2 linked regions of the Homo sapiens genome follow. The protein of the gene in region 2 interacts with the protein of the main gene of each other region in a pairwise test. Each region holds a gene or a part of one and is shown on either strand. Other genes may lie near its edges.

Evidence for each region. The genes of interacting proteins can lie anywhere in the genome.
Region 1: the proteins of KHDRBS3 (region 2) and DMRT3 interact in binary tests that used the Homo sapiens proteins (3 or more experiments, as listed by UniProt).

Annotation. Positions count from the first base shown.
Region 1 is NC_000009.12:986,608-992,232, reverse strand, and holds the end of DMRT3 (doublesex- and mab-3-related transcription factor 3), read right to left. Parts: intron 2,193-5,625; coding exon 1,228-2,192; 3' UTR 501-1,227; downstream 1-500. UniProt on the Homo sapiens protein: Probable transcription factor that plays a role in configuring the spinal circuits controlling stride in vertebrates.
Region 2 is NC_000008.11:135,642,452-135,648,153, reverse strand, and holds the end of KHDRBS3 (KH domain-containing, RNA-binding, signal transduction-associated protein 3), read right to left. Parts: intron 3,096-5,702; coding exon 3,037-3,095; intron 1,162-3,036; coding exon 1,070-1,161; coding exon of another isoform or gene 1,057-1,069; 3' UTR 544-1,056; downstream 1-543. UniProt on the Homo sapiens protein: RNA-binding protein that plays a role in the regulation of alternative splicing and influences mRNA splice site selection and exon inclusion. Binds preferentially to the 5'-[AU]UAAA-3' motif in vitro.

The DNA.
Region 1 (5,625 bases), on a different chromosome or scaffold from region 2:
AGAATGAAGGAATGCACGTCTATATTCTGAATGCAAGGCTACTGAATTTCATTAATAGAAGCAGTAGTTTTCATGGACTGCATACTTCCTATGTCAGGTACTGGGCTAAGCACTTTCCTTGCTTCCCACACTCAACTATACATTGTTGGGAGTTTTCCATTTTTACTTTGTTTTCAATGGGATTCTCCACTAAAATATCTGCTTATCTAGGACTCACGGGTAGGTAACTTGGACAATACATGGAAAGCACATTCTCTTACACATAGTAGGCACTCAGTAAGTATCTGTTGAATAAGTGAATGGATGGAGAGAATTAACTCCATTTTGAACAAATTATCTTTCTGAATGCAACCCTAAAACTTTGCCATTCATATTTCTCAGGAATGTCTCATTTAACTGATAATTTGATTCCTGGCCCATGCGTTAGTAAAAGTCATTTTTACATCAAGTTTCTATTTTTAGAGATCCTCTTTCCACAAGTAGAAATGACATAAACCACGCTCGTCTCCTTAGTTTATTTTTTTCTAGAGTCCTTAACATGCTACATTAACCTGACAAAGCTTAATCTTGTGTTCGTTTCACAATACATTTCATGCAGTTCACAGCTGTGATTGGTTTTACATTGACATTACACATGTTTCGATTCAGCCATGTGAAAAGAGTAATTCTTAATGGGGTTTGTCTCTGAAAACTGTCCAAGCTTAAATAAGCATATGAGCAGTTCACTCTATTCTTAAGTGCATCTCTCTTTAAAATGCAAGGATTTTTAGTGTAAGAATATAATGTCCCTGTTTATAGTCCATTTGCAACAGAACCACTTCCTTTAGGTTTCACATATCCTGAGGAATCCACTTTTACAAAATTGCATTCAAGTATATTATTTCATTTAACATTCCAGGTTGGGTTTAGGTGCAAGGCTGACCTTCAGCTTTACATCCCCAAATAAATCTTCCACGGACCCAGCCTTCCCAAGACTATTCTTAACATTAGACTCTCTTTTACAATAAACATTCAGCACTAAAGCCACAGAACAGAGCTATTTGGCATTTTCCAGTGAAGTGCAAGAAGTTAAATAAGTTATGTTTTTATTGCTAATGTATAGAATCAAGCACAGTCACTTTGTCAAACAGAAGGAAAGGGCATACACAAGATGTGGCCTCTCCTCAGATGCCTCAGGGTCAAAACGCACAGAAAATGTCACCTGGCCACCACCCATCCAGCACCACTTTAAGATGATGTGTTGAGTGTTCTAGAGTCTGAGGAGTCAGACCTCTCGTCATAGTCGTCCTCGGTGTAAATGGACTGCTTTGACACAAATGGACACCCATCATCAGGGATGGAAATCCGAGGGTCTTCCGTGGCGCGGGCAGGAAGGACGGGCGAGCTTCTGAAGACGCTGGTAGAGTTACTGGGGAAAGGACTGACATACTGGGACCTCAGCTGATACTGCTGCTGCAGCGTCATGGTGTTCCACAGGGTGACATCATTGGGCAAAAAGGGGCTCGACTGGCTTCTCGCCAAAGTATTCCTCAGCATCAGCGGGTACCGGGGTGGCTGGGGGAAAGGGGGCTGCAGAGGCCCAGCCAAGGGACTGGGGACAACGTTGCTAGAGTCGGCAGAAAACCTCAACGTGTCTGGGACTCGAAAGGCTGATCCCACAGACCATTTGGAAGACGAGATGGGGTAGGAGCTCAAGGTGTGTTCAAAGATGTGCCCATTGGAGGGCAACGCTAGACTCTCAGGTTCTGCGGAAGTTCGCTCTGCTCCCGTGACTGAGGATCGGCTGGACAGAAGGACTTCCACGGCGCTCACCAGGTCCCCGCCACAGCCCTTGAGGATGAGCTCAAGCACCGTTGGCTTCTGGTTGGGGAATATCTTTTTTAACACTTCAAGCGGCGGTCTGTTGGCTTTCAAGCTGAAGGGCAGAGAAACAGTCCCCGAGGGGCCCTCAATCAGGAGGTGATTCTGCTCCGCGTGACACTTGGGGCTGTCAGGGCGGCTCTCGGGGTTGCCTCCGTTTTTCTGGACAGCGTATCCCCCTTCCTCCACGGACACTATCTCAGGGCTCTCAGGGGTGAAGCAGCCCTTACTCTTTGCCACATCTGGGGAACTCCTCTGGTCAGTGTCTTTGTCACTGAAGACCTCTGTATTGTCTGCCGACTTGCCGTCTCCAAGTCGTTCTTCAGTCAAATCTGGAAAACAGAACAGCTGAGTTAATCTTTTCCTGGTGTGCATAAAGAGGAGCAGATGTGCTCAGAAGAGACCTGTACACGTGCTTTTTGGAAGAGCAAATGCATCTCAATGGGTCATAATATACTACAAGCCTTTTTAAAAAAATTCGAACTATATCACTGGCAAATGAAACAAAAACCCTGTAAATAAAGATCTAGAAATCAGAGTGGCTTCCTGGAATGCTTTGTGCAAGGAAGCTTGCCTTCAACATAGAATGGCTACATGAACCTGTAACATATGGCTTTCATAGCAGTAACAATCTCAATAGAGAGCCTCTTTGGGAGGAGGGGTGGGGGACTCCTGGAAGAGCAAAGCTCAGGGAGAAACAGGAAAATCAGCTCAGCTTGTCTTCCGGCTCCTCTTCTGCAAATAAGGTCCCCAGCTGTTATCTAGGGATAGTACCATCCAGATACCCACAGGGAATTTTAATATCTGAAATCTATTTTCCCATAGGCTGATTTTGTGTTAAATATGTCTTATGAACCAATCAGTAAGTTGCATCAGGTTACCATATACAATAGCTAGCTAATTCAATTGCTGAAGTGAAAGATACCTCTATCCATTGAAATCTTTCATAAGAAGCCACTTGAGGCATTGGCAAACTTGGTTGCCAATAACTTGTACTAGAAAGCAAACGAAACCAGCTATGAATTCCGGATGGCAGGATAAGTTGCTGGAGAGGAAAAAAGGAAGTGGCTAGAAAGGGTTTGTTAAATTGCACGGGGGCATTATTATCCATCAATGAAACAACGCATCACACTCCACCGCCACGGGTGGCACGAGGCAGATACCTGTGCATGAACTGTTTTGCTGGTACAGTTCATGGAAAGGACTTGAAGATACCTTTTTTTAAAGCCAGTGAAATTTGAAGATACCTTTTTATATTATATGAAAAGAAGAAGGAGGGAAAAAAAGGCTTCCCAAATAAAGCAGAGACTTGCGATAAAGTAAACCAGTTGCAAATTTAACATCTTGACCTAAGAACATTTTTACTTAACAGCTGGTAATATTGCAGGGCTAAGCACACAGAAAAGAGTAAGTCAGAGTGGTTTGCTTTGCAGTAGTAAATTCCAACAGGACTTTATAATAAAGAAACATATTTTTTAGTAGCAAGCTATTTGCAAATAGAGTTTTGTCCTTTTTTGAAACACGCGCTGGCTGTGGCTACTCAAAGCCAGGGTAGCTGATCGAAAGATGAAAATTCCTAATGACCCAGTTGTTGAGTTGTAAACAATTGCTTTGCCTGTGTTTTCTGCTGCCCTGCCTGAATAGCTTCATTGTTGCCTTCTCTGTGGGCACACCTGATTATATACAGATAGCCAGCCGGTGAAATTTCATCAAAGCACCCTCTAGAAACAATCTTCTCCTACACTTGTCATTTTAAAAGCCTTAAGGGCCTACTTATGAACATTCTTCTAATACAGGTGTATCTTAAGTGTAACCAAAAAACAAAACTTTGTGAAATTTCATCAAAGCACCTTCTAGAAACCATCTTCTCCTACACTTGTTATTTATTTTAAAAGCCTTAAAGGCCTACTTAGAAACATTCTTCTAATACAGGATGTATCTCAGATGTAACCAAAAACCAAAACTTTGGCCTTTAACAAAGCAATAAATATGTGGCAAACATAAGTAAATACACTTTAAAACACTCTTCAATTACCTCAGTGCAAGTGTCAACATACATCTGATAGGAATTCATACTTATCCCAAATTTGCATTTTAATTAAACTGCTTCTTTTTTAATATAAAATATAAGGTTTCCAATGAGAGGTTCATTTGCGTCACATACATATGAAGCCATCTTCACTTTATATAATGACTCTATAGAAAGACTCTACTGTAGAATGACTCTATTTTTGTAAGAGAAATTTGACATATTCTCTCCTACAACTTCTTAGGATGGGGGACACAGCTTTTACCTCTTGAGTTAATGTGGTATTTGAACTCATGTCCTTGATTCAAAAGAGAAAAACAGCAACAAAAAGGCTTCTATAGATTTACTTTATAATCAGCTAGATCTATTTAAATGTTCCTGACTCATGACCCATACATACTTCTTGGCTGTTACTCTATTATTAAACATTTGAAAATTATTAAACACTTGAAAAGTGATAGCATATTAATATACTATCACTTTTAGAAATTGGAAAAACAAGTCAAATACTCTCCCCATGTAAATATGGACATAAAGTACTTCTTTAAAATACTATGTACTTCTAAACAGTTTCCTTATTTTTTAATTTTAGCGTAATTATCAGCACCAAGTATTTATATTTCTGCACGATACTGGGAGAAACAGAATAAAGGATGAAAAACACCAAGAAGTGTAAGACCCACACCTAGCTTATGGACCTTATCTTCTAGCTGGGGAAATAAGACACACATGCAGGAGAAGAAGCAAACAGGGCCTGGCAGCATTTGCTAAGCCTCAAATATGACACACATTGTATACCAATGTTCATGGCAGCAGCATTCACAATAGCCAAAAGGTGAAAGCAACCCAAATGTCCATCAGTGCATGAATGTATAAAACGTGGTGTACACACACACACACACACACACACACACACACACACACACACACAGTGGGATATTATTCAGCCTTAAAAAGGAATGGAATTCCAATACATGCTATAACATGGATGAACCTTGAGAACATTAGGCTAAGTGAAATAAGCCAGACACAAAAGGACAAATACTGTATGACTCTACTTATATTCGATACCAAGAATAGGGAAATTCAGAGAGAAAGTAGTGTGGTGGTTGTCAGGGGCTGGAGGAAAAGGGAATGGGGAGTTATTGTTTCATGGGTATGGAGTTTCCGTCTGGAATGATGAAAAGGTTCTGAAGATGGATGGTGGTGATGGTTGCACAACATTTTGAATAAATGCCACTGAATTGTGCCCCTAAAAATGGTTAAAATTGTAAACTTTATGTTATATATACTTTACCACAATAAAAAAAGAAAAATATATGCCACACAGTGTCATAGTAATATAGAGAATGAAGAGATTTTTTTAAGCAAGAGAAACAACTAGTCCTTCTTGGGAATAAAGCGTACATAGGCACAGCTGGAAAGCTCAAAGCTCAACTTTTTTTTTTTTTTTGAGACAGAGTCTCACTCTGTCACCCAGGCTGGAGTGCAGTGGCATGGTCTCGGCTCACTGGAAACTCTGCCTCCTGGGTTCAAGTGATTCTCCCGCGTCAGCCTCCCGAATAGCTGGGACTACAGGTGTGTGCCACCACACCCAGCTAATTTTTGTATTTGTAGTAGAGACAGGGTTTCACTATGTTGGCCAGGCTCCTCTCGAACTCCTGACCTCATGATCCACCCGCCTCAGCCTCCCAAAGTGCTGGGATTACAGGAGTCAGCCACCACGCCCGGCCAGC
Region 2 (5,702 bases):
AGTGAGATTAAAATCTTATTTGATTTATTTACCTTTGAAAATGAAGACCGTTTAAGGGTTACACATCCTCAGCCTTGGCGAGTGCGACCTCAATTAGTCAAGCCAGAAAGTCTTTAAAAGCTTTGTGCTTAGTGCTTCCAGCATGGAGCGAGGTGTTCATTAAGGTACCAAAATTCTCATAAAAAATCCAAAGTTGCACTAGTGAAAAAACGCTCAACAAGATGAAAACTGATCACATCTTTTTCAGAAAATCCAGTAGTTATTTTAAAACCAGTTTTTAAACAAGATTTGGTTTTGCGTAGTTTAACGTGCCACTCAAGCAGCTCGATACCATTTGGACTCTTTAAACAGCATTTAAATCTATGGTGAGTATATAATGGTACATTTAATTTTATACCATTTTTAAAATAAGTTGTACAATGTTTAGTGTGACCCTTTTATGACAAGCATTGTTAAATGAATTCTTTCCCTGTTTACAACTATTTATGAAGGCCTTTTTAAATAAAAAAAAACCCATGAAATTGTTAGCTCACACACACAAAATTTCTTTCAAAAGTTTATTTAGTATCAAGCAAGAGGAGACTTTGCTTAACACTACAGAACATTTCAAGACTTGAGTTACAAAAGAATACCACATTATTTGCACTTGTAATTGGCTTCCCTTTTTACGCATGTTGGCAAGAGAAAAAAAAACTAGCATATGGCTGAAAGATAAAATAACTAAATTCTATGGAAACCTTTAAAATGAAAGGTGAGGCTTATGTTAAAAGAATAGATTAACATATTTAGTAAACCTATTTTTTGTTTAACACTAGTTAATCAAAGTTATTTTTTTTCCTTTTGATGACCTATTTTTTCATATACAGACTGGAAATAACAAAATTTTACATGTCTTTTTTTTTTTTTTTCTGCCCAGGTTGATGTTTCAACAAAGTAGTTTTAAGTTCCATCCATTCAGATTTTAAGCATTCTGATTTATTTAAAAAGGGATTGTTCATAGAAAAAAATTACTTTGAACAGTATACAGGACTGGTGGAGATTGGCTATTTCACAACATCAGACAGTACAATCAGTATCTGCCATATGGCTGGTCTCTGTAGACGCCCTTTGCTGTCCTCGCTGAAGGTGCCTTGTGTCTTGAGTTAGTCCACTCTTCTTGCCCTACAATCAGTAAGATGAATCACAATTAGATCACTGCCATGAATCCCACAGGCTTCATTTTTCAGACTCTAACTTAGCCCTGAACCAAAGGTACATGTCATATTGAAAATATATACCCCTGGTGTACTGAAAAGAAAAACAAACAAGGAATTTACTTAAATAAATTACAAACACAAGGAAAAATAATCATCTCACTCGCAAAATTCGTCAGCGTGGGAAGATAAACGGTTCTTGTATCTGAAATGGTAACCAACTTCGCAAGGACTTTCCTTTTGGTTACTCATTTAACAACAGTTTACAAGCTCAAGTAGCAAAGAGAACTGCCTTTTGCTAAACATCAGGACATTTATGAGTGAAAAAGAGAATGGGAAAAGGATCACTTAGATGTCTTCCAACAGCAAAAACAAAGAAAAAACATAGGTAAACATCTGTGAAGACAAAGAAGAAAACCGGAGAGCAAAACGGGAAGGGGCAGACTGAGAAAGGGAAATATGACCTCATTTTTCACAGGCGCTTTCACGGAAAGACTGAAGGAAAGTTGCATTGGGTTGAACTTCACTTCTCAATAGCACTTCATGAATATGAAATGAATTTAACGACATAATGTCAGATTTCATTCATCATAATGCTAAATCCGTACTGAACAAAGGTATTAATAACCAGGGACATTCTATCATCTTTATCTCCTGAAATTAAACACCTGTTCAGCCTGAAGATAACTTTTAATGAGTTATCTATAAGTCTTGGACATCAAACAGTTAACATCCCTGCTGCAACATACAGCAATTTAAAAGCCATGTGTCCACAGAGACCAATTTAAAAAGCTGTGAAGGAAAAATGCTTAAAATGACCTCTTCTTTTGATACAAAACATGCAATCAACGTCACTCCCTCAAGCTAACTTGCATCAATTTAGGTAGCCTGCATTCAGCAAACCAACATATTTCTCTTAAGTGTTTGTTACGGATAACAAAAAAAAAAAAAAAAAAAAAAAAAAAAAATCCAAGGTGCAGCCATCACAGCTTCAGGCAGGTGATACAACAAAATGCACTTCAAAAGGTTTAACGCCGGAAAATGGTTTTTCCGTTCTGTTAAGAGAAATGTCCTAACATCCATTAACCACAATCCTGATATACTTGCACCGGGTACCAGGGATTCATCAGAGCTTTGCAACTGATTGAAGCTTCATGTTCTCTGATCTCCTTGCCCTGCGGCAAGGGCTCTTCTTACTACCATTATGTTGCTGCCGCCAATTCTTTTAATTATTAAACCTGTCATCGTTCTGCATAGTGAGACTTTGGACATGAAGTCCCCAGCATCTCTACCAGCTCCACTGAATTAAGAGGGGTTTAGCTGCTGCCCTTTGTAAAGCTTACAGACCCTGTATCTCCTCCTTGGCTCAGTGCTTTTGTAACCTTTATGAAATGACTCCCAGTGTAATTTTTTTCAGAGGGTTTGAGATTGGAAATGAATTAAAACATAAAGATGAAGGTGGGAGAATCACTTTAGAGCTGTAGTCTCAATTGCTTCATTTCCCTTCACTGTCAGGAAACAAAGACACTTCAAAAAGACCCAGCTATCAAGTGTCTGAAGTTTGAAAAACTACTCTGTGAGAAAATCAGCACACGGCGACCAACTCAAACATAAAATTTAAGTTCAGAATCTGGATTCATGCAATCTTCAGCAAGTCTTTAGTCCTCTTCAAATATTTATATAATAAAGGAGCCCTAAAAATAGCTAGACATGCACAAATGAATTGACAGGAAGCTGCTGTTTCAGAGTCCAAATGTCCTTATTCTCTTCCCATTAATATCTTTAAGGTCTTTCTACGGCCATCTCTCCTCCCTCTCTTCACATGCTCTGGCCAGTCACTCACCGTAGGAATCATAAGTCTCCTCACTGAGTCCATGTCCGTAATCATAGTAATCAGCACCACTGCAAGTGATCAAAACAAAACAAAGGACAAAATCATCTGGCTGTGAGTTTCAACAGTATTCAATAACGTATTGTAAAACTTAAAGACAACTAATGAAGGGCAAGACTGAAAATTCAAAGAAATTCCCACCGAGATCACAGAGTTCTAAAGCAGAAGTGTCAACTTTGGGATTATCAAAGGACCCTTGTCTAGCTCCCTAATTTTAATACATAATAAATATGTTTCGACATTTTAACCACAACAATTGGCCACGCAACACACAGTAAGTGCCTAAAAGTGCACGAGGGAATACAAAGACAGCACCTGACCTGGGAAGACTGGGAGTCTGCGGAGAGGGAGGATGTGTGTGGACAATTCTAGCCCAGTGTGCCAAGAGCTAGGGCTGGGCCTGTGCAAGGCACTGTGGGAGTGGGGGAGGAGGTAAACACCTCCTTTCCAATAGATGGGATGTTTACAGAAGGCAAAGACTTTATTTCTTCTTACACCCTCGTCTACCAGAGAACCCGGTGCTGCATGAATTGTGGGTGCTGTACTTTATAGTACATTAAAAACAAATGCCCAGATGAAATGTTTTCTTTGACCGGCACTGTTGCATCACCATCCGGAAGCTGCTGGGAAAAGAGGACTCAGCAGCCATGGCCACATGGGACAGGAGAGCAGGGAAATGGATCTCTGCAGTCCAGTCACAAGTCTGGTTACATGAGGCCAAGGATCTTTTCAAAGTACAGGCAAATCCACGTTCCAATGTACAACATCCTTGAGAGAGCACGAGGAAAGAGCCATCACTGACAGCAAGAGGGAAGAGTTCTCACTGCCATTTTGCAGATGATGCAAAACAGCCTACATATATACAATGTATTTGAACTAGGAATAATTTTTTACAGGAATAGACTTGTGAAAAGTCTAGATTACTCAGCCATAACCATTCTGAGTATTTGAGAAAGAGTTTCCATGTACCCTCTCAGGCTTTCCTCTTTCCCACTCCATTTTGTAGGGAAACCACCATCCTGAATTTGTTATCTTAGACTGTCATGGAAATAAACATCCCCATTCTTCCAATTTCATACAATCAAGAGGTTTCTAATCAAAATGGAAAATGATCCAGCTCAGATGTTTAACACCTCAGGAAGTCACAGTTTGAGGAGCACAGATGCTTGCTGTGAATGTCTACTGAACACCAGCCGCTGAGATCCCACATCACCCCCGGCCTCGGATAGTAAAACTGCCATACCCATTTGACAGATAAGGATACTGCAGACCAGAAGAGCTAAGAAGCCAGGCTAAATTGCATGGAGAACAGTATAACTGAATCTCTGTGACTACACAGGCCAGACTTGTGGTCACAACCACACGGAGTTTTTCCCCCACGTTTTCTTTCTCAGGAAAATGACACCAGAGACTAATCATCACATTTAATGACTACGGCACAGCATGGCCATTCCTATGAGAAAAGTGTAAGCAATGGAGCTATGTTCCTTTTTATCTCAAACATGTGGGCATGAGTTTTTATATTTGCTACTCTTTCTGCCAGAAGGCCCTTCTCTCCTGTCCTCCAGGCTATTTCCAACTCAAGCCCTTAACCTAAATGCCACTTCCAAAGAGAACCTTGCTGGTATCCCTGAGTGAGGTTGGTTTCCCACGACAGCATGCCCTGGTTCTCATTCTTTTGGCCTGGAGGAGACCCTCACGTTACATATGTTAAGTGGGTATACGGAGAAGGGGCACCTCCATCACTCTAGTGTAGTGTGTCATGAATGGCTTGGAGCATGCAGTGCTTGCACAGTGTTCTGAGGGTGAAGGTGAAGACAGGTGGAGAAGGAATGGACAGAGGCAATGGCAGCAAGGGTCTTCCAGGCAGAAGAAACAGAATATGCAAAGCAGAGGCAGGAAACAGGTTGGAAAATCTAGGTGTCAACAAGCAGTTCAATCAAATATAGTAAGTATTGATGAAAAATGCCTGGACCAGGCCAGGCGCGGTGGCTCATGCCTGTAATCTCAGCACTTTGGGAGGCTGAGGCGGGCGGATCACGAGGTCAGAAGATCGAGACCATCCTGGCCAACATGGTGAAACCCTGTCTCTACTAAAAAAAAGTATATAAAAATTAGCTGGGTGTGGTGACGTCTGTAGTCCCAGCTACTTGGGATGCTGAGGCAGGGGAACTGCTTGAACCCAGGAGGCGGACGTTGCAGTGAGCTGAGATTGTGCCACTGCACTCCAGCCTGGCGACAGAGCGAGACTCCATCACAGAAAAAAAAAAAAAAGACAAATGCCTGGACCGGAATATTCCTTAGAATACTTCTTCCACACATAGAATATAGGCCCCACCTTGTTATCCTGGCTTAATCATATCCTTACAAGCTAATTAAATACGGTGTAACACGGAGGTTATGATTTGAGCTCTCTGTATAAAATAAGCTCTCTGAAATGGGCTGTGTTAAGCTCCGCTGGCTTAACACATTACAGAATAGTCACTACTACAGCTGACCTAATATACCAAGTAGCAATGTGCAATTTTTCCACAGAGGTACATGTAGCCACAGAGTTTTAAAAAATGGTCTTCAAATTAAGGGCTGGCATTCCTAAAAAAATTTAGAAGAAAAACGAG